Homo sapiens: one gene and its partners. The protein of the gene in region 1 purifies or fractionates together with the protein of each later gene. This does not show direct contact. Each region holds a gene or a part of one and is shown in the gene's direction. Other genes may lie near its edges. The genes, in order: SLC38A2, TMEM87A, PIP4K2B, ADGRG5, SPPL2A and PIP4K2A.

Region 1 (3,500 bases):
TTAGCCATTTTTGCGTCACTGACTCTTGGAGAATATGATAGAAAAATGTGGATCTTATTTCCAGGGAAAAAGCACAAAACAAAAATACATGCAATCTTAAGCATGTATTTTTCAGTGATGTTTGTGTCATAGCCCTTAAGTTTAAGTACCCGTGGACCCCTGGCTAAGGCAATTTCTGTGGAGGATTGTGTAACTTAATACCTTCATTGTACAGATAAGGAAACCATATGTATATAGCATGGAATTGTCCCTTTGTGACAGATGTGTTTTACTTAGCTGATTGGTGCCTTCTACTCAAGTTATTTTCTCCAGCACGATAGAATGTTCATGAAAAGAAAAGCAGACCTTTGCAAATCTCTGCTTTGTGAAATTCCACACTGAGGTTAAGCCTGGCTTTGAGTACTAGATGCTAGGATTCACTCTGGCTTGCTTCAATTAGGATGAGGCTTTTTGAGAGAACTCTTACTAAGGTGAAGGACCAGCGATTTACGTAGAATCCTAGAATCTCAGGAGTTCTTAGTGGAGAACCTGAATGGCATCACTGTCGAATATTTGAAATCCTTGTTAGCACTTGGTATAAAAACTGGAGGCAGTTTTAGAGTGCAGCCAGTGTAGTTAAAGTAAGAATTGAAATGATACTAAATGGCACCTCTGTTTCATAAGTGAAGGTCAAATTCTGATGTAACCCTTGTACTCTTGGAATTATACTTTAATAGGTGCTTATGTCATTGATTTACCATTTTGCTTAATGGCTAAATAAGATTGCTAAAGTGTGATTTTATTCATCAGTACTTACTTTATATTTAGAGGTATAGAGGAAAATGGGCCAAAAACCACATGGCTGCCACGGTGCACTTCAGCAACCCTGTAGCTAACCTGTTTAAGTAGAATCAATCTGAAGGTTGAAAGTGACCTCAAAGGTTATAAAGTCTATTCATCCCTTGTCATTTCAGTATAAGACATGGAAGGACTTAATTTGGTTTGTTTTTAATTAAACCAACATATTTTCTCCAGTTAGAAGTGAGGTTGATAGTGTCACTTCAGACTAGGTCCTGTAAAACTTCTGGCATTTAGAATGGTAGTGTAAAGCCACTTCCTCTGTTTAACTAATAGACATCAGTTTCTTTGTCAGCACCTTACATGGTACTGCGTGCAGTTTGTTCATACGGAATTAAAAAACATGTAACTCTTCTCCTTTGCAAGGTTTTCTATGAGTTTCCCTGTTTTGTTATTTAATTTCTTTAAAAAATTAGTCTGTATCTCTGGGCTCTCCTAGGTGGAAGGAAAGTAAAGCTGGAATGAGGGAGAACCCTTACCCTAAAGGAAAATTAGGTGACATTAGGGTCCCTTTAGTCACTCTATGTTACCTTATTTATTTATTTTTTTTCTGTTGCTCAATCCAAGTGAAAGGGTCAAGGGAGGAAAGGCTTAGAGACAGTCAAGCTGATAGCCTACTTGTTCTAGCACAGACATTGTTTAACTGTGACAATAGTGGGCCTGTATTCCTTGCCATGGGGTGCAATGTAGTATGTCATCACAATGGTTAGTTCTCTGATTTGTGCCCAGTTGTTAGTAAAGCTTGTAGTGCCTCTTAAAATGTTAGTATCATGTTAGTGTCATTTCCCCCTTACCATTCTTTTCCTTTTCTTTCTTTTTTTTTTAAAAAGACAGTATTTCATTTTGTCCTCCAGGCTGAGTGCAGTGGCAAACTGCTGGGCTCAAGTGATACCCCCACCTCAGCCTGAGTAGCTGAGACTATAGGTGTACACCACCACAGCTGGCTTTTTGTTTTTCCTTCGGTAGAGATGTGGCTTCCCTATGTTATGTTGTCCAAGCTGATCTCGAACTCCTGGCCTCAAGCAGTCATCCTGCCCCAGCCTCCTAGAGTGCTGGGATTACAGGCATGAGCCACTGCACCTGGCCTGTCATTCCTGTTTTTGTGTATACGGTCCATGTGGTCTTAAAACCTTTCCTGAACGTGTCTCAGTTGAATTTCCCAAGAACCTTGTGGGCTGGGTTTAGTGGCGGATATTACTAATATTTTACAGATAAGGGGAACTACTGAAATGCAGAAAGGTGGCAAGCATACAGCTCATTATTGTGGTGCCAGAATCAAAATACAAGTTTCAAACTCCATCACTGGGAAGTTGAGCTTTCCAGTGTCTCATGCTATGTTTGGCTCAGTGGGTAGACATCCTTGTTCCTAACCAATGCTGTAGAACTATCACCTGAGAAATGATGCAAGTTTTTACTGCCAGCCAAGAGACAGTGTTGCCATTCCAGTTAGTAGGAGAGGAAATGCCAGTTCTTCAGGGCATTTTGACACAAATAGGACAAGTTGCACACATAATGTTATTTAAACATCCAGAAAGAGTTGTCTTTAAATATAGCCATGCTTATTTATAACCCTATGCCTTTTCCTTCTCTCACCAGAATTCTCTTGACATTTGTGTCAATATTTTCCCTGTATTCTGTTCATCTCCTTTTGAAGACTGCCAATGAAGGAGGTATGATAGCATTCTTGATTTTTCTAAAACAATGTATACCTATCATTTTATTTCTCTTTTAAAATCCTTGGCTTCATGCTTCTGTCTTCAAATTGTAGGGTCTTTATTATATGAACAATTGGGATATAAGGCATTTGGATTAGTTGGAAAGCTTGCAGCATCTGGATCAATTACAATGCAGAACATTGGAGGTAAGAATTTTTCAAAAGATTATTTGGGTAGACTTTATGCTCATTGTGGAGCACAGAATGGTGACACATGCGTTTTAGTGTCACGTGCCGCGTTTTGCACTTGTAATGGTATAATTTTGTTTTCCTCCAGCTATGTCAAGCTACCTCTTCATAGTGAAATATGAGTTGCCTTTGGTGATCCAGGCATTAACGAACATTGAAGATAAAACTGGGTAGGTGCTAAGTAAGGTTACTCATAAGAAACAATTATAGTCAAAAGTGGTTAGATACATTTTTATCAAAGTTGTATACAAAATGATTAGTTAATTATCCATAAATGTTCCTTTTGAAACTGACCAAGAAGGCCCCCCATCCCCGTAAACTGATTCGAACTTTGGAGAAGGAAAGGCCGAAAGATAGTAGCTAGCCCTACAATTTTGGATATCTTAATTTCTAAAACAGGTTTTCTAGAACTTGCTTTCTGTCTTTATGTTCATACTTAAAGAAGTTATAGGTGTTTTTAATATATATCCTAAGTGAGGACTGAAGCTTTGAATTACATTAAAAATTAATCCGTCTTATTTTTGTAAGTTTGGAATTCTTAAGACTTAATCTGTTCAATGCAAAATACAGGCTGGACATCCCTAATCTGAAATCCAAAACTTTTTGAGTGCCAACATGACACTACAAGTGGAAAATCCACACCTGATCTCGTGACAGGTGTGCAAAATTAATTAAAATACTGTATAAAATCACCTTTAGGCTATGGGTTTAAGAAGGTGTATAGGAAACATAAGTGAATTTTGTGTTTAGACTTCAGTGC
Region 2 (3,500 bases), on another chromosome or scaffold:
GAAGTGTTTATATTTCATTGTTTTTGGAGGATTTGAGGCACTTTATTTTTTGTTGTTGTTTTTTGAGACGGAGTTTTGCTGTGACGCCCAGGCTGGAATGCAGTGGCACGATCTCGGCTCACTGTAACCTCTGCTTCCTGGGTTCAAGCGATTCTTCTGCCTCAGCCTCCCGAGTAGCTGGGACTATAGGCGCGTGCCACCACGCCGGCTAATTTTTGTATTTTTAGCAGAGGTGGGGGTTTCACCATATTGGCCAGGCTGGTCTCGAACTCCCGACCTCAAGTTATCTGCCTGCCTTGGCCTCCCACAGTTCTGGGATTACAGGTGTGAGCCACCGTGCCCGGCCTGAGACACTTTAACATTATCTTTTTCTTTGTTATTTCTGTGCTTTCTCATATTTACCAGTTGTCTTTGATTTTGTACTTTTTGGGGGATGGTATATAGCTTTCCATGGAATAGCTGGGACCATTTTTTTTTTTTTTTTTTTTTTTGAGACGGAGTCTCGCTCTGTCGCCCAGGCCGGACTGCGGATTGCAGTGGCGCAATCTCGGCTCACTGCAAGCTCCGCTTCCCAGGTTCACGCCATTCTCCTGCCTCAGCCTCCCGAGTAGCTGGGACTACAGGCGCCCGCCACCGCGCCCGGCTAATTTTTTGTATTTTTAGTAGAGACGGGGTTTCACCTTGTTAGCCAGGATGGTCTCGATCTCCTGACCTCATGATCCACCCGCCTCGGCCTCCCAAAGTGCTGGGATTACAGGCGTGAGCCACCGCGCCCGACCTTATTGTCTCTTAAAGCCTTTCATTTAAAGTTCTAAATATTGTCTTGTAACATAAACAGCAGTATTTTTGCTGCCAAATTTCCTTACAAGTCTCCTGTTTGGGGGATGTGTTCTTACTGGCTTTTTATTAGTTAATCCTGTCCCTGTATGGATTATTTTGAATAGTTCATAGCCCAATTGCTTTTTATCATTTCCATAAATTCTATCCAACAGGTCAAATTTTTGAACATTCTAATAGAGTCCTTTGAAAATGTGTTGGTCATCTAAAAATTAGTTTGAGAAAACAGTTTAAAAGAAAAAAAAAGGAAGCTTATAATTAGGTTGCTTCTTTTGTTATGAATGAAAAGTAGATTCCTAAATGCAGTCATGTTTATTTTTGTCATGTTTATTATTACATTTATATAAAGTAGGGAGTCTTTAGTATATTTTTCCTTTCATAGCTAGAATCAAAGATAAAAGCGAATACTGACTTCCTCCAGCTAATCAGTCATATAGTCAGATTTACCCTCCCAAGTCTTCAGAATAATGTCTTGATCCATTAGAATACTGTGTTCCAAACTGTGTTTAATGAGCTTTATGAAGCTTCCATGATAACATGAGCTTCCTTGAGGCCTCTTTTAAGGTAGGCTTTGAAAAAAAAAATCTGATACTCTTATCTTTGCTTTTGCTATTTCTACCTTCCACAGCCATGTTTGCTTTTCGTTCATTGCTCTTTCTGTTCTATCTTGATATCTTTCAAGGTCTGAGATAGCAATTTTGCTCTCAGTGGAACTATTATGTATATCATCATTTAACACCATTTAACAGTTGTTAATATTGCCTTGTGACATGCATTCCTAATTTTATTATTGCTTGTCTCTTCAACTAGCCTTTTGAAGGGTCTTAATAATTTGTTTCCACTCGTTTCCCTCTTTAGCCTAACAGTGTGCCATTATACCTTTGTAATACTTGTGCTATTTATTTATTTATTTATTTATTTATGTTTTTTGAGACAGGGTCTCGCTCTGTCGCCCAGGCTGGAGTGCAGTGGTACCATCATGGCTCACTGCAGACTTGACCTCCTGGGCTCAAGTGATCCTCCTGCCTCCCTTGCCTGAGTAGCTGGGACTACAAGCATGTACCACCACGCCTAGCTTTTTAATCATTTTTTGTAGAGATGAGTTCTCACTATGTTGCCTAGGGTGGTCTTGAGCTCCTGGGCTCAAGCGATCCCCCTGCCTTGGCCTCCCAAACTTCTGGGGTTATAGGTGTGAGCTACCGCACCTAGCCTGCTCAATAAATACTTAAATAATAGAAGACTGGCTTGAATTTAGAGTGCTTTATCACTCCCAGGTTTTTCTCAATAGAGATCCAGAAGTTAGGACTTTATGGCATAAAAATAGATCCACAGTTTCCAGAGGTTAAAAACTGCTTACCTGCTATTTTTCTATGAACAACAATACTTTTATCTTAATATCCAGCTCTTTTTGCATGTATTATTTCAATACCTTATGTTTGGAGAAAGGATGGTCTTTGAGTATCTCAGTTTAGGGTACGAAATGAATAGGATATAGGTTAACAGCTTAGGAAAAATGCTTTGTTGGGGAATTATCTTTTGTTAACAAAGATTTCTTCTTTTGTAGTTGATGGAGAACCTTGTGACCTGTCTTTGAATATAACCTGGTATCTGAAAAGCGCTGATTGTTACAATGAAATCTATAACTTCAAGGTAAGGAACATAAAATTACAGAGTTTTTTTGGACCTTAGTGATTATCTGGTTCCAGTCTCTTAATTTCATAGAGGAAAGAGTATCATGTAGCTATGGAGGAGGAGAGCTGAAACTAGAATGCATGCTTCCCAATTTGCAGACCACCAATTCTCAAACTTTTTGGTTTCAGAACTCTTATATTTGTAAAAATTATTGTGGACTCCAGAAAGCCTTTGAGCATGTGGGTTATGCTATTAGAAATTACAACTGAGAAAATATAAAAATATTTATTAGTTTATTTTAAAGTAGCAATAATAAACTTATTGCATGTTAATATAAATAACTGTTTTTCCCAGAAAACCACACAGAAGAGTAGGATTGTTTTGTATTTTTGTAAATTTGTTTACTATCTGGCATAACAGAAGATCACTGTATTCTTATATTCCCTCCTTCACTCAGTCTGTTGCAATAATTTGGCTTAAGTACATGTAGAAAATAATGACCTCATACAGATATATAGTTGGGAAAAGGAATGGTATTTTAATGGCCTTTTCAGATAACTGAGGATATTCTTTTTTGATTCTATACCAAAACTCAACAAGTGGAAGTTTTTAAAGGTTAGTTGCAATGTGGAATCTGAAATATTAATGAACTTTTTTTGTACTCTGATAAGAAATCCACTGATATGAATGTATCTTTTACCTGTGTGTGATCTTGTAGCATCATTTATTGGTCATTTAGAAAATAGCAGTTGACTGAATTATATACATTTTTATAAATATTAACTCATTTCACACTTAGCTAAAAATTACATTGTTTATAACTATACCCTGCCCTCTTCATCTCATCAGTAGGTTCTTAAGTTTTGGAAGCCGTTAAATTCAGTGTAGCAGATACAAGTTCTTCAAAATTCCAGTTTTTGCTTGAAATCTCAAATTTTATTTTGGCAGTGAATACTGTCAGTTGTCTTCCTTGAGGGGACAGCCTCTGTTGCCCATTTCCAGAGAAATAACTCTCAAATAACCAAGTCTGA
Region 3 (3,500 bases), on another chromosome or scaffold:
TTGCACCTGTCAGGGAAGAACTAGTGAAGAGCAAAAACCAGTGTTTTAGTGGATGAAATACAGTTCCGAGGGTTTGGAATTAGGGAAGAGATGGCCTCAGAGAGGAGCATGGAGACCATGGGAGGTAGACCTGACTTGATACTTGTTGGCCATTTTAAGAACCAGGTATGTGTGAAGCCTTACCACAGGGATCAGAGGAGCAGGAGCAGTTGATGGTGACTCTGTATTTAACCATTTGAGAAACTGCCAAACTGTTCTCTAAAGTGGCTGTACCATTTTACATGTCTACCAGCAGTGTATAAGAGTTCCAGTATCTGCATCCTTGTCAACACTTGTTATTGTCTTTTTAAAGTTATTAAAGCCATTCTGTTGGGTGTGAATTCGTATCTCATTGTGATTTTGTTTGTTTGTTTGTTTTTGTGATGGAGTCTCACTCCGTCACCCAGGCTGGAGTGCAGTGGTGCAATCTCGGCTCACCGCAACCTCCACCTCCCGGGTTCAAGCAATTCTCCTGCTTCAGCCTCCTCAGTAGCTGGGATTACAGATGCCTGCCACCACACGTGGCTAATTTTTTTATTTTAGTAGAGACAAGGTTTCACCATGTCGGCCAGGCTTGTCTCAAACTCCTGACCTCAGGTGATCCACCTGCCTCGGCCTCCCAAAGTGCTGGGATTACAGGCATGAGCCATCGCACCCGGCCTCATTGTGACTTTGATTGGCATTTCTGTGATAACTAATGATGTTGAGCATTTTTTCATGTACTTACTGGCCATTTGTACATATTCTTTTCTTTTTTTTTTTTTCTTGAGACAGAGTCTTGCTCTGTCGCCCAGGCTGGAGTTTAGTGCCACAATCTCAGTTCACTGTAACCTCCGCCTCCTTGGTTCAAGCGATTCTCCTGCCTCAGCCTCCCAAGTACCTCGGATTACAGGTGCCTGCCACCACACCCAGCTAACTTTTGTATTCTTAGTAGATATGGAGTTTTACCATGTTGTCCAGGCTGATCTCAAACTCCTAACCTCAGGTGATCCACCTGCCTTGGCTTCCCAGAGTGCTGGGATTACAGGTGTGAGCCACTGTGCCTGGCCTGTACATTTTCTTTTTGTTGTTGTTGTAGAGACAGGGTCTCGCTTTGTTGCCGAGGCTGGTCCTGAACTCCTGGCCTCAAGTGGTCCTCCCGCCTTGGCCTCCCAAAGGACTGGGATTGCAGGCATGAGCCACATCCCCAGCCTTCATTGGTATCTTTTCTTTGGAGAATGTCTATTAAATTTTTTGCCCATTTACAAAGATCTTTTTGCCCATTATTAAATTGGGTTATCTTCTTATTATTGAGTTACAAGAATTCTTTTTATATTCTAGATACAGGTCCCTTATCAGATATATGATTTGCAAATATTTTATCCTATTCATTGAGTTGTCTTTTTCATTTTTCTTTTTTTTTTTTTTTTTTTTTTTTTGAGATGGAGTTTTGCTCTGTCGCCCTGGCTGGAGTGCAACGGTGTGATCTTGGCTCACTGCAACCTCTGCCTCCCGGGTTCAAGCGATTCTCCTGCCTCAGCCTCCTGAGTAACTGGGATTACAGGTGCCCGCCACCACACCAGGCTAATTTTTGTATTTTTAGTAGAGACAGGGTTTTGCCATGTTGGCCAGACTGGTCTCGAACTCCTGGCCTCAAGCAATCCCCCCGCCTCGGCCTCCCAAAGTGGTGGGATTACAGGCGTGAGCCACTGCACCTGGCCTGCCTTTTTCATTTTTCTTATGGTATCTTTTGAAGTTCAAGTTTTTAACTTTAATAAAGTCCAGTTTATCTTTTTTGTTGTTGTTGTGTGTGCTTTTGGTGTTATATCTAAGAAGACATTGCCTAACCCAAGGTCATGAAGATTTACTCCTTTGTTTTCTTCTAAAAGTTTTATAGTTCTAGCTCTTTTTTTTTTTTTTTTTTTTTTTAATGAATTGGGGTTTCTCTGTATTGCCCAGGATGTTCTCAAACTTCTGGCCTGAAGCAATCCTCCCAACTAGAGTTTTAGCTCTTTCTTTCTTCTTCTTCTTTTTTTTTTTTTAATTGTATTGTGGTCAGAACATTTAACATAAGATGTACTCTCATGACAAAATTTTAAGTGTACGATTATGTTATTGATGACCATGGGAACAGTGTCATAGTGCAGCTCTGTAGAGCGTATTCATCTCGCTTGAATGAAACTTTATGCCTACCAATTAACTCCCCATTTCCCCCGCCCCCAGCCCCTGGCAACCACCATTCTACTCTTTGTTTCTATGAATTGGACTGTTTTGAAACCTTATATAAGGAGAATCATGCAATATATGTTTTTCTGCGACTAGCTGATCTCAGCGTAAGGTGCTCAAGGTTCATCCATGTTGCACATAGCAGAATTTCCTTCTTTTATTAAGGCTGAATAGTATTCTGTTGTATATGTATACCACATTTTCTTTATCATCTGTTGATGGATTTGTTTTCACACCTTAGCTCTTGTGAATAGTGCTGGAGTATGTATAGTTTTAGTTCTTACATTTAAGTCTGTAATCCATTTTGAATTCACTTTTGGGTATGGTGTGAGGGACAGATTTATTCTTTAGTCTGCTCAATTTCTCTCCTACATTCCACCCCAGTTCTGTTCTGTCCATACATTTTCTTTCTTTCTTGTTTTTTTTTTTGTTTGTTTTTTTGAGGCAGGGTCTCGCGCTCTTGCACAGGCTGAAGTGCAGTGGCACAATCACGGCTCAATGAAGCCCCTACCTCCCCATGCTCAGGTGATTCTCCTGCCTTAGCCACCCGAGTAGCTGGGACTACAGGCACATGCCACCACACCCGACTAACACTTGTATTTTTTGAAGAGTCGGGGTTTTGCCATGTTGCCCAGGCTGGTCTCGAAATCCTGGGCTCAAGCGATTTGCCCACCTCGGTCTTCCAAAGTGCTAGGATTACAGGCGTGAGCCACTGACCTCCTTTACCTGTCTTTTTATCTTGCCCTACTGCTTTAAAAATCTTCAGAGGGGCCTGGCATGGTGGCTCACGCCTGTAATCCCAGCAGTTAGGGAGGCCAAGGTGGGCGGATCACCTGAGGTCAGGAGTTCAAGACCAGCCTGGCCAACATGGTGAAACCCCGTCTCTACTAAAAATACAAAAATTAGTCGGGCATGGTGGCGCATGCCTGTAATCCCAGCTACTCGGGAGGCTGAGGCAGGAGAATCACTTGAACCTGGGAGACGGCGGTTGCATTGAGCCAAGATGGCGGCATTGCACTCCAGCCTGGGTGACGAGCAAAACTCCGTCTCAAAAAAAAAAAAAAAAGAAAAAATCTTCAGAGATGGCTGGGAGCAGTGGCTTACGCCTGTGATCCCAGCACTTTGGGAGGCCGAGGCAGGCGGATCACTTGAGGTCAGGAGTTTGACACCAGCCTGGCCAACATGGCGAAACCCTGTCTCTACTAAAAATACAAAAATTTGCCGGGTGTGGTGGCATGCGCCTGTAATCCCATCTA
Region 4 (4,047 bases), on another chromosome or scaffold:
AAGTTACAAAGTCATTTGGCATATGCCCTATGTAAATGGAGAGGATATTTTCTGTCATAGCTGAAGTGTTTCCATTTGATTTATTTTTATTTATTTTGAGATGGAATCTCGCTCTGTCACCCAGGCTAGAGTGCAGTGGTGCGATCTCGGCTCACTGCAACCTCTGCCTCTCGGGTTCAAGTGATTCTCCTGCCTCAGCCTCCCGAGCAGCTGGGATTACAGGCACCTGCCACCACGCCCAGCTAATTTTTGTATTTTTAGTACAGACGGGGTTTCACCATGTTGGCCAGGATGGTCTCCAACTCCTGACCTCAAGTGATTCGCCCACCTCGGCCTCCCAAAGTGCTGAGATTACAGGCATGAGCCACCGCGCCTGGCCTCCATTTGATTTAGTTCTAGGAAGTCCTTACATTTCCCTGTCTCTAAACCCTTTTCTCCTGCCTCAGCATGACATTGTGTCCGACTAAAAGGTGGCATCTGTCTTGAAGGTGTCTTGGGGAGGCAAAGGGCAGAGGCCTCCGGGAGGGCGTGGGACCGGGGCTGGCTTCGGTTAGTTCTCCATGGCTCTCTGCTCAGCCCTCAGTGGGCTCTCCTGCGGCTCTGTGTGCTCTCAGGTTGACACTTGGAGGGTCCCTGTCCACCAAGCCACAGGTTGGCAGCCCGCCCACTCTCCAGCGCAGGCCTTGGTGGCCCCGTCTAGGTGGGGAGTGGCTCCTGGGGAGGGGCGTCCCACTGCAGAGATGGTGATGAGGTGGTGACAACCATGTAGTGGGGTGGAAGGGGAAGTTTCCAGGAAAGAGGGCTCCGGGCCAAGGATCCAATAGAAGATGGGGCATGCCGGCCTTGGGCTGGCCATGGAAGCAGAGAGGAGTGAGATGTGGAAAGGAGAGAGGAAGAATTTTCAGGGGGGTGAAGACATGGGGACGTGAGAGAAACCACTGTGGCTGGAAAGGTGGGCATGAGGGAGCTTCAGATTGTTGACCAAGGAGGCAGATGTGTCCTCTGATGGTGGCCTGGCTGGAAAGCCGGGTGAGGGGTTTCACTGTGTGTTCAGTCAGGCAAGAAACAATAGGGCCTGAGCCAGGAGACCGAGTGGGGCTTCAGGGAGTGATGCTGGCCTCCCCGCGGGCCTGGGAGCCACTGTGAGCCTGACACGTCACCCTCCCCTGCAGATGCTGGGTGCGGAGCCCCGTGGTGCACAGTGTCCTGGTCATGGGCTACGGCGGCCTCACGTCCCTCTTCAACCTGGTGGTGCTGGCCTGGGCGCTGTGGACCCTGCGCAGGCTGCGGGAGCGGGCGGATGCACCAAGTGTCAGGGCCTGCCATGACACTGTCACTGTGCTGGGCCTCACCGTGCTGCTGGGAACCACCTGGGCCTTGGCCTTCTTTTCTTTTGGCGTCTTCCTGCTGCCCCAGCTGTTCCTCTTCACCATCTTAAACTCGCTCTACGGTAGGGCTGGAGGGCGGCCTGGAGGAAGCTACCTGGCAGGGGGTGTATGGCTGGTGGGATGTTCACTGCTAAAGGGGTTCAGGTGAAGGGGGCGAGTGGGGGACTAACATCCAGCCCACAGCTCCACTAGCTAAGCTGGTGGGGGCTACATCTGCATGAAGGTACCCTATGGACTGGCCACAGCAGCTCTTCCAGCTCTGAGGCTCTGCCCCTCTGGCCTCCTACAGTAAGAGATTCTGGGAGTTGCCCATGGGCCCCAGGGAGGCCAGCTCGCTGCAGCCAAGGAGACCCTGGCCTTTGGGGAAGCCCATGCTGCCCCGTGGAACTCCCGCCTTTCTCTTGCAGGTTTCTTCCTTTTCCTGTGGTTCTGCTCCCAGCGGTGCCGCTCAGAAGCAGAGGCCAAGGCACAGATAGAGGCCTTCAGCTCCTCCCAAACAACACAGTAGTCCGGGCCTCCTGGCCTGGAATCCTCAGCCTCTCTGGCCGCCAGTAGCCTGAGGCTACGGCTCCTGCTAGAGAGGGTGGCAGGCCTGCTGCTGGACCCCAGAGGCCACTGTGACCGCCAAGGGGCCTTTTCCACTTCCACGGCCTCTCCAGGCACTGAGGGGAAGGCATTGCTCTACCTCTCCCTGACATTTTGCTCCGGGGCAGATCCAACCTTACCTGGGGCAGCAAACTTTGTCCTGGTACCTGGGCCCAGCTCGCCAGGGATGTGGGCAGAGCACCAGCCTGGGCATCAGGAAGCCAAGTTTCAAGGACTGTCTTTGAGTCTGTCTGTATGACCTTGGGCCTGCCACTTCTCACAGACCCTAGGTATCCACAGCTGTGACATGGGGGCAAGCGGCTTTGTTTCAGCCTAACCCAGGAGCTTAGTAAAAATTGCATAAGACCAGGGGGAAGAGTGTCAGCGTGGGGTGGGAATTCCCGCGGCCTCCACCTGCTTGCTAGGGGCAGGATCTCATTCAGGCTGCCCTGGAAGCACCTGCTTGGCCCTGCCACCTTCCTCCAGGGGAGGGCCAGATGGCATCCTGGCTTGGGGCGGGTGGGACCTACCCAGGCTCTGAGACTTTACTGGCCTATGCCTGAGGCCTCTTTTCCTTTAACTCCCTAAATTATGATGACTCCAAGTCCAAGCCCACCCTTCCCAAAGATTGGGAGGTTCCGCCGTTCCCAGAGGCTCCTCCTGCGGTGCTCCCAAGACTTCCATAGACCATCTGGACCAGTAGCCCATCCCGCAGTTTTCTTGGGGGCAGAGGAAAACGCTTCTTTCTCCTCCAGCTGAATCAGCTGGATCCCAGTGTCCTGGCTGTTTGGTGATTGGGCAAGATTGAATTTGCCCAGGTAGGCGTGAGAGTGTGGGTTTTAAATTCGAAGCTCAGGCCATAGTTTCAGAGAATCACCCTTACCCCAGACCTTCATGAGACAGTGCTCATGAAGCCAGTGCGTTTCCCAGAACGAACACTAGGCGGCACCGTTGGTCCACACTCAGAGGCCCTTGGCGCCAAGACTGCATCTAGAATCGCTCAAACACCTGTTTGCAGACCCCATGCACCAGCTGGAGGGGCCGTAACTGCAGGACTGCGCCTACTGAGTGACCCATTTCCTCCAGGAGGAAAGGCAAGACACGCTTACACGGCCATTTGTCTCTTTTCCCAATGCGGCGGTGCACTTTCGCTCTTGGGGGCTGCACCCCAGACATAGCTGGCACCAGAGCAGGGTGCTCAGGTGGTGGGTGCTCAGGGCCCTGCCCCAGGCCACTGGGCCGTTTTGATGACCTCGAAGGTCACAGGCAGAAAATAGGAGCAGGATTTCCCCTGGGGAAAAGTTCTCCTGGGACATCTTCTGCTCTTCTGTACATTTCTAGATGCAAATAACTCCTTCACCAGGCAGTGAGTGGCGTAGGCTCTGGAGCCAGGCTGCCTGGGCTCCAATGCCAGCTCTGCCACTTGCTAGCTGTGAGACTGTGGACAAACCACTCAGCCTCTGTGTGCCTCAGTTTTCCTATTTGTAAAATAGAGGCCATAGTGGTACCTATTTTGAAGACTAAGTAAAAGAATTCAAATAAAGAGACTTGGCACAGAGTAAGTGCTCAGTAAATGGTTACTGGTATTATCATTAGTATTTTTGCTATTATTGTTAACAGTGTTAACTGAGTTTCAGAGGCCAGCCTGTCTAAGCCCCAGGCCCAGCTCTGCTCAACCTTGTAGGCACAACCCCTTCTTAGGCACATCTCACCATGCCTCAGTTTCTTTCCCCAGACGGGTCTCTACTCCCACCTCGCTGACTTTCTGCTGTTCTAGGAATAGTCCCCACACAGTGCAGCCTCCAGGCCATGCCACATGTCCCCCGACCTCCCAGTTCCCCAATCTTCCGGTCTATAGAAATTCCTGGTGGTCATTTATCACATCTACAAAATTGCCCCAGCGGTGCCTAGAGAAGGCCTCTTTCCCACGCTAACTCCAGGCAGATTCTCCCCACCCCTGCCACCATCTGGGTGATGTGAGCACCCATCCAAGCTCCCATGGTTAAGCCCAGGCTCTCCAGGCCTTGGGGCAGGGGGTCCCCTTGCTAATGAGGGTCCCGAGGAATTATGGGAA
Region 5 (2,471 bases), on another chromosome or scaffold:
CTGAGTAGCTGGGATTATAGGCATGTGCCACCACACCCGGCTAATATAGTATTTTTAGTAGAGACGGGGTTTCTCCATGTTGATCAGGCTGGTCTCGAACTCCCAACCTGAGGTGATCCGCCCGCCTCAGCCTCCTAAAGTGCTGGGATTACAGGCATGAGCCACCGTGCCTGGCACTTGTAGATTTTTTTTTAGATTAGCAATTCCTTAGTAGAATCTGCAATTTATTTCTCTTTTAAAGAGAATTTTAACCCATCTGCTATTGGCATTCTTATATTTTACTTGTCCATAGAGATTTTAGTGAATTGATACATTTATAATAAATACAAATGAGCTTTCCAGTTTTCTTTGCTCTTTCAATTTATGCTTTAGTATAAGCAAAAATTACTATTTTTACATTTTTAAAAATTGTGGGTACATGTAGGTGTATATATTTATGGAGTGCATGAGATGTTTTGATACAGGTATGCAATGTGAAATAAGCGGATCATGGAGAATGGGGTATCCATTCCCTCAAGCATTTATCCTTTGAGTTATAGACATATTTTACATTTGAATAAAAAATATTTGAACTAAGGCCGGGTGCGGTGGCTCACACCTGTAATCCCAGCACTTTGGGAGGCCAAGGCGGGTGGATCATGAGGTCAGGAGTTTGAGACCAGCCTGACCAACATGGTGAAACCCCGTCTCTACTAAAAATACAAAAATTAGCTGGGTGTGGTGGGGCTCGCCTGTAACCCCAGCTACTCAGGAGACTGAGGCAGGAGAATCGCTTGAACCTGGGAGGTGGAGGTTGCAGTGAGTCGAGATCACACCACTGCACTCCAGCCTGGGCGACAGAGCGAGACTCCATCTCAAAAAAAAAAAAAAAAAAAAAAAATATATATATGTATATATATATATATATATATGTATATATGAACTAATTTATTTAGGCTTAATCTCTAAAATTTCAGCCTGATCTTAACCAATGAAATTTCAAAAACAAAAACTGTACTTCAGTCTACAATTGAATGGAATTCAGTGTAGACCAGTACAATGGAATGTACTGGCTGAGATGGGAGGGTCCCTTGAGCCCAGGAGTTTGAGGCTGTAGTGAGCTGTGATTGTGTCTGTGAATAGTGACTGCACTCCAGCCTAGGTGACATAGCAAGATGCCATCTCAAAGAAATATAGATATATAACATAAAATAAATAACTTTATACATTTCCTGGAGGAAAAGTACTCTGTAAATTCAAGAGATCTGAATCAAATTACTCAACCTTTTGGAATTTGATCCTCTACTGTAATACTCATATGCTAGATTACTGAATTTTCAGAGTGAAAAAAAATTGACAGGGTAATATATAGGCCATATTATAGTGAAGATCATAAGTATAAATGTCCTCGTTTAATCTTTCCATATTGAGGACAGCCTCTGCATATAAAAATGTTCATTGGGAGAAAAATTATTTTTAAAACTAAATTTTTATAGTAGTCCTCCATTACTGGCAATTAAGGAGCAACCCACAAAATGTCATTATGTGGTTCTTTGATTAGGCATAAAAAGTATTGCAAACAGCTTTTCTATTCCTTTGGAATATGAATCTTTTTAATGTCTAAAGTTAACCTGCAACATTTTCTAGTAGGACAAGTCAATGTAAATTAGGTAATTTTTGCCTGTTTTATACCTTCTGTTGCATTTTGTTCAAATGAAAACATTTTTTAAAACATGATTGAATTTTTACTTCTCAGATAATTGGTTTGAGTGTGGAATTTCTTTTTTAACACTTTGATATGTAAGTTAGTGTAAATTAATACTTTTATAACACTACTAGGCTTTATATTTTTATGGAATGTTTTAAAATTTGAAATTTTTGAAGTGTTAATTTAGCAGTACTTTATCATTATGTGCCAATACTGACAAGAAAAACAATTTTTTATGTATTTAATATACTATGGTATTCAATAAATTCTATTTTAAAATAAAATTTGAATTTGTTTTATTTTGAATGAGGAAACTAATTGAAAATGAACTAACAGTGTGCTAGATAGATCATGTTCATATAACACAAAAATGGTAATAATTGCTTAAGAAATTATGTAGCTATTTAGGTTTTACAAATTATCCTTAAAACCTAGATTCTGGCCGGGCACGGTGGCTCACACCTGTAATCCCAACACTTTGGGAGGCCGAGGTGGGCGGATCACGAGGTCAAGAGATGGAGACCATCCTGGCCAACATGGTGAAACCCCGTCTCTACTAAAAATACAAAAATTAGCTGGACGTGGTGGCATGCGCCTGTAGTCCTGGCTACTCAGGAGGCTGAGGCAGGAGAATCACTTGAGCTGAGGCAGGAGAATCACTTGAGCCCGGGAGGTGGAGGTTGCAGTGACCGAGATCGTGTCACTGCACTTCAGCCTGGCGACAGAGCAAGACTCTGTCTCAAAAAAAAAAAAAAAAATAGATAAATAAATACCAAGGTCTATA
Region 6 (3,500 bases), on another chromosome or scaffold:
TGGCATCAGTGTTTGCATCTGTGAACTGAGGTTGTTTGGATGATTTCCAAGTCTAACTCAAGATTCTGTTTTTTCAGTCTACTAGGTGCACAGTGTTATACTAGGATTTGTAGAATACTATATAAAAGTTGTCTTACTATTATAACCTTCCAAATGCAGCAACATTCAGGGAATTTTCAAGACCTTGACTACAGGGGAAGGAAATCTATGGTGATTTTAAGAGACTGTGAACTAAGGGTTTGTTATATTGAATGTAGCTGAACTGCATTGCAGTCTATTAAGCCAAAGTCGATTTGATTGAAACATAACAACTTGCAATTAAGGTGAAAATGTTCAAGTCCATTGAGGTGGTAATGAAAATCTTGATTTGGGCAATGGTCATAGTCGGGAGTAAGCCTGCCATTGTGTGGTTAATTTGATATGTTACTGCTTTGTAACTTAAAATACCCATCAGTGAATGGATCAGTGCCAATTTTTAAGTATTTTAAGCAGAGAATATAACTGAATACATAAAGGAAAAGACTTAAGGCAGTTTTGTCTTGTTACATTTAGAATTAAACTAAAAATGATCAAACAGTAAGCGTCTTAAGATGATATTTTAATAGTGTGGGGAGGATGTTGAATGATATGAGCCAAGACTTGTTTTAAATAGATACTCTAAAAGATTTTTATCCACAGTGAAATGTGAGCCTTTTAGAAATTAGTATTTTAAAACCTATTTAAATATCCAAAGGAAAACATTATCTGTATAGAAAAATCTTAAAGCACATAAAACTTGTTTAAAACATGTAGCATTTAGAAGTAGCTAAGTATTGATGTTAGAGGCTTTTGGTTTAAAGCTGTAGAAGTTGAAATGAGCTTTGGCAAAAATGTCAGGTATTGAGGGGTTTGGGGGGCCTATCACAGTAGAAGGAAAGGCTGGTAATGGAACCATGTGAAGAGCTGGGTGCTTGAGTGTGTGGGTGTGTGAGTGCGTGGGACTTTTCTGTACCCTTTGGCTCAGTTCTCCTTCATAGCTGGCTGGTTCCTCCACAGAGCAGGGAATGAACGGTTCCTGTATTTCACATTTTGTCATTTCTGCTCCCCCAAAAGGGTTTCCTGTCTCTAATTCAGTTATAAAAATACCGTGGAAGGATTCCACTTGGGATTGGTCTGGCCTTGGTCATTTGTGGCCGTCCCTTGGACTAAGCAGTTATAAAAACATGGCAGCGCTTGCCTGTTGGCGTTGGGGAAAGAACAGTCCCCAGAGAGGGGAAAGGGCCTGCCAGGCAGTTTCAGGCAGGTCTCTGTCCGAGTAATAGAGCTGGATGGTTCTGGACATCCGTGGGTCTTTACCGTGGGAATCTGTGAGGGCCAGCCTGATGAGCACCATGTGCTGTGTTGTGTGTGGATTGGAGAATTCATGGTGTCCTTGGTGGAGCGTCAGTAGCTTTGATTATATTCTCCACAAGCTCTGGTTTTTGGAATAGACAAAGACCATATTGGATACATCATAATTTTTTTTTTTTTTTTTTTGGTTCATGGGTTTTTATTTGGGCACTGAAAGAAGATAAGGAAACTAAGTTTTAAAGTGATTTGAGTGACTGTGAAATGACTTTGACTGAATAGGACATAATAAGGCAATTACATTAAAATTAAAATTAGACATTAGATGAAATTATTGAGTGGAACCCAGCTACCATTCATTCAAGAACTAGTCTCCTCAAACTATTTTTTTGTTCTTTTTAATCTTCAGAGGAAAGAAACATACCAAGCAGACATACAGAAAGTTTATTAGGGAAGTCGTTTTATACTCCTTAAAACTTGGGATTATAACCAGAGAACAGAATACATTTTCCTCTCCATTTGTCAGATACTTTAGAGTGAACTCTAAGTATTTATACTTAGTACTTAGTGTTACTTAGTACTTACAGTTACTAAACTTCAGTACTCAGAATGATGCCCCATGTCAGGTCAGTGATTTCTATTTCCAGGGTATCCTGATCTGCTGTGTCTTTAGATAGGTTGCCGGCAAGAATTATAATAAACCACCAAAATCTGCCTTAAGTTGATTAGAAAATACAGGCAACCAGAGTAATTAATTCTGCCAGCATAGCCTTCGAAATACAAATTTTGGAATTGAAGGGAATTGGTGCAATTTGGCAAAAAAGGTTTGTGGTTAGACAGATGAGGTTCAAATGCTAACTTTGGAACTGATGGGCTCTTTGAGCAGGTGATTTAGTCACTTGAGCCTCAATTTTCACATTCTTAAAATGGAGATAATGATATGACTTCACAGGGTTGAGAGTTAAATGAGATACTGTGTTTAAGGCCTAGCACTGTAATTAGCACATCATAAGGATTCAGTAAATGATGCCTAAAAGTAATAAAGTTCAAATGCAGTTTGGATGGTGATATATTAAAAGAACCAGATCCCTGTTTCTCAAAATTTAAGGTGTTTATCAATCGGGGACTTTTAAAAAAAAAAAAAAAGTCTGCTAAATTAGGCTCTGCTGCTGGGTAGGTGGCTCATGCATGTAATCCTAGTCATGCATTGGGAGGCTGAGGCAGGAGGATTGCTTGAGGCCAAGATTTTGAGACCAGCCTGGGCAGCATAGCAAGACCCTGTCTCTACAAAAAATGTAAAAACATAGATGGGTATGGTGGCACACACCTGTAGCCTGAACTACTCAGGAGGCTGAGGTGGGAGGATCATCTGAGTCCAGGAGGTCCAGGCTGCAGGGAGCCATGGTTGTACAGTGTACTGTAGCTTGGGTGACAGATGGAGGCTCCCACTAAATGTGAAACAATAAAAATTAAAATGCAGTGTCTAATTCAGCAGATCTGTTGGGAGTGCTGCCTGAGACTGTGCATTTATCATACTCTCGGGTGGTACTGATGCTGCAGGTCCACAGGCTACATAGCAGTAGAAGGAAGAACTTTACCACTAAGGATTCCTCCCCCAGCCCCAACTGTATGTGATGAGCCCTTAGAAGAATGGTGGCCCCATGATAGATTAGAGAATTTGGGAGAAGAAATTGTAGGTTGGAAAGGGACACAAGCAATTTAGATTTAAGAATGTGGAATTGCAGGTGATGGTGGTGGGTGGATCCTGCAGTTACAGTACCATGTAGGATGCTGGAAAGGTGTGATTGGAGCTCGGGAGCCACTAGGGCTGGGATAGACCATTGAGACCTGCCCGTACAGAATCGGTAAGTCAGATCTCCACCGGAGGAGCAGGGACACTGGGGACACTTGGCTTTGAGGGAAGGACAGAGGAAGAAGAAACAGGAGGAGAAAACAGAGGTCGGCACAATTAGATGTTCCCAAGTGCTTGAAAGTCATGGCTGTGCTTGTGGTTGATTGCGGGTGGCTGTGAAAGCTTAAAGACTTAAGGAGTGAATGAGTGGAAGTAGAGGCAATTCCTCTTTTTTGGAAGGTAAGTAGAAGGAAGGTGAAAGATGCCATTTTGTTAGGAATCCCTGGGGAGTTTCCTTGAATCCGTCTCTTCGTTTCCATTC

Evidence for each region.
Region 2: the proteins of SLC38A2 (region 1) and TMEM87A fractionate together in Homo sapiens (co-fractionation; one large-scale study listed by BioGRID). This does not show direct contact.
Region 3: the proteins of SLC38A2 (region 1) and PIP4K2B purify together in Homo sapiens (affinity purification with mass spectrometry; one large-scale study listed by BioGRID and IntAct). This does not show direct contact.
Region 4: the proteins of SLC38A2 (region 1) and ADGRG5 purify together in Homo sapiens (co-immunoprecipitation; one large-scale study listed by IntAct). This does not show direct contact.
Region 5: the proteins of SLC38A2 (region 1) and SPPL2A fractionate together in Homo sapiens (co-fractionation; one large-scale study listed by BioGRID). This does not show direct contact.
Region 6: the proteins of SLC38A2 (region 1) and PIP4K2A purify together in Homo sapiens (affinity purification with mass spectrometry; one large-scale study listed by BioGRID and IntAct). This does not show direct contact.

What each region holds. Positions count from the first base shown.
Region 1 is NC_000012.12:46,366,274-46,369,773, reverse strand, and holds part of SLC38A2 (sodium-coupled neutral amino acid symporter 2), read left to right. Parts: intron 1-2,433; coding exon 2,434-2,507; intron 2,508-2,605; coding exon 2,606-2,698; intron 2,699-2,828; coding exon 2,829-2,910; intron 2,911-3,500. UniProt on the Homo sapiens protein: Symporter that cotransports neutral amino acids and sodium ions from the extracellular to the intracellular side of the cell membrane.
Region 2 is NC_000015.10:42,266,934-42,270,433, reverse strand, and holds part of TMEM87A (transmembrane protein 87A isoform 1 precursor), read left to right. Parts: intron 1-2,401; coding exon 2,402-2,487; intron 2,488-3,500. UniProt on the Homo sapiens protein: Potential monoatomic ion channel gated by mechanical force, implicated in normal touch sensitivity through the generation of mechanically activated currents.
Region 3 is NC_000017.11:38,793,057-38,796,556, reverse strand, and holds part of PIP4K2B (phosphatidylinositol 5-phosphate 4-kinase type-2 beta), read left to right. Parts: intron 1-3,500. UniProt on the Homo sapiens protein: Participates in the biosynthesis of phosphatidylinositol 4,5-bisphosphate. Preferentially utilizes GTP, rather than ATP, for PI(5)P phosphorylation and its activity reflects changes in direct proportion to the physiological GTP concentration.
Region 4 is NC_000016.10:57,573,643-57,577,689, forward strand, and holds the end of ADGRG5 (adhesion G-protein coupled receptor G5 isoform 1 precursor), read left to right. Parts: intron 1-1,172; coding exon 1,173-1,450; intron 1,451-1,795; coding exon 1,796-1,896; 3' UTR 1,897-3,547; downstream 3,548-4,047. UniProt on the Homo sapiens protein: Orphan adhesion G-protein coupled receptor (aGPCR). Ligand binding causes a conformation change that triggers signaling via guanine nucleotide-binding proteins (G proteins) and modulates the activity of downstream effectors, such as adenylate cyclase.
Region 5 is NC_000015.10:50,701,766-50,704,236, reverse strand, and holds the end of SPPL2A (signal peptide peptidase-like 2A isoform 1 precursor), read left to right. Parts: 3' UTR 1-1,971; downstream 1,972-2,471. UniProt on the Homo sapiens protein: Intramembrane-cleaving aspartic protease (I-CLiP) that cleaves type II membrane signal peptides in the hydrophobic plane of the membrane. Functions in FASLG, ITM2B and TNF processing.
Region 6 is NC_000010.11:22,708,079-22,711,578, reverse strand, and holds part of PIP4K2A (phosphatidylinositol 5-phosphate 4-kinase type-2 alpha), read left to right. Parts: intron 1-3,500. UniProt on the Homo sapiens protein: Catalyzes the phosphorylation of phosphatidylinositol 5-phosphate (PtdIns5P) on the fourth hydroxyl of the myo-inositol ring, to form phosphatidylinositol 4,5-bisphosphate (PtdIns(4,5)P2). Has both ATP- and GTP-dependent kinase activities.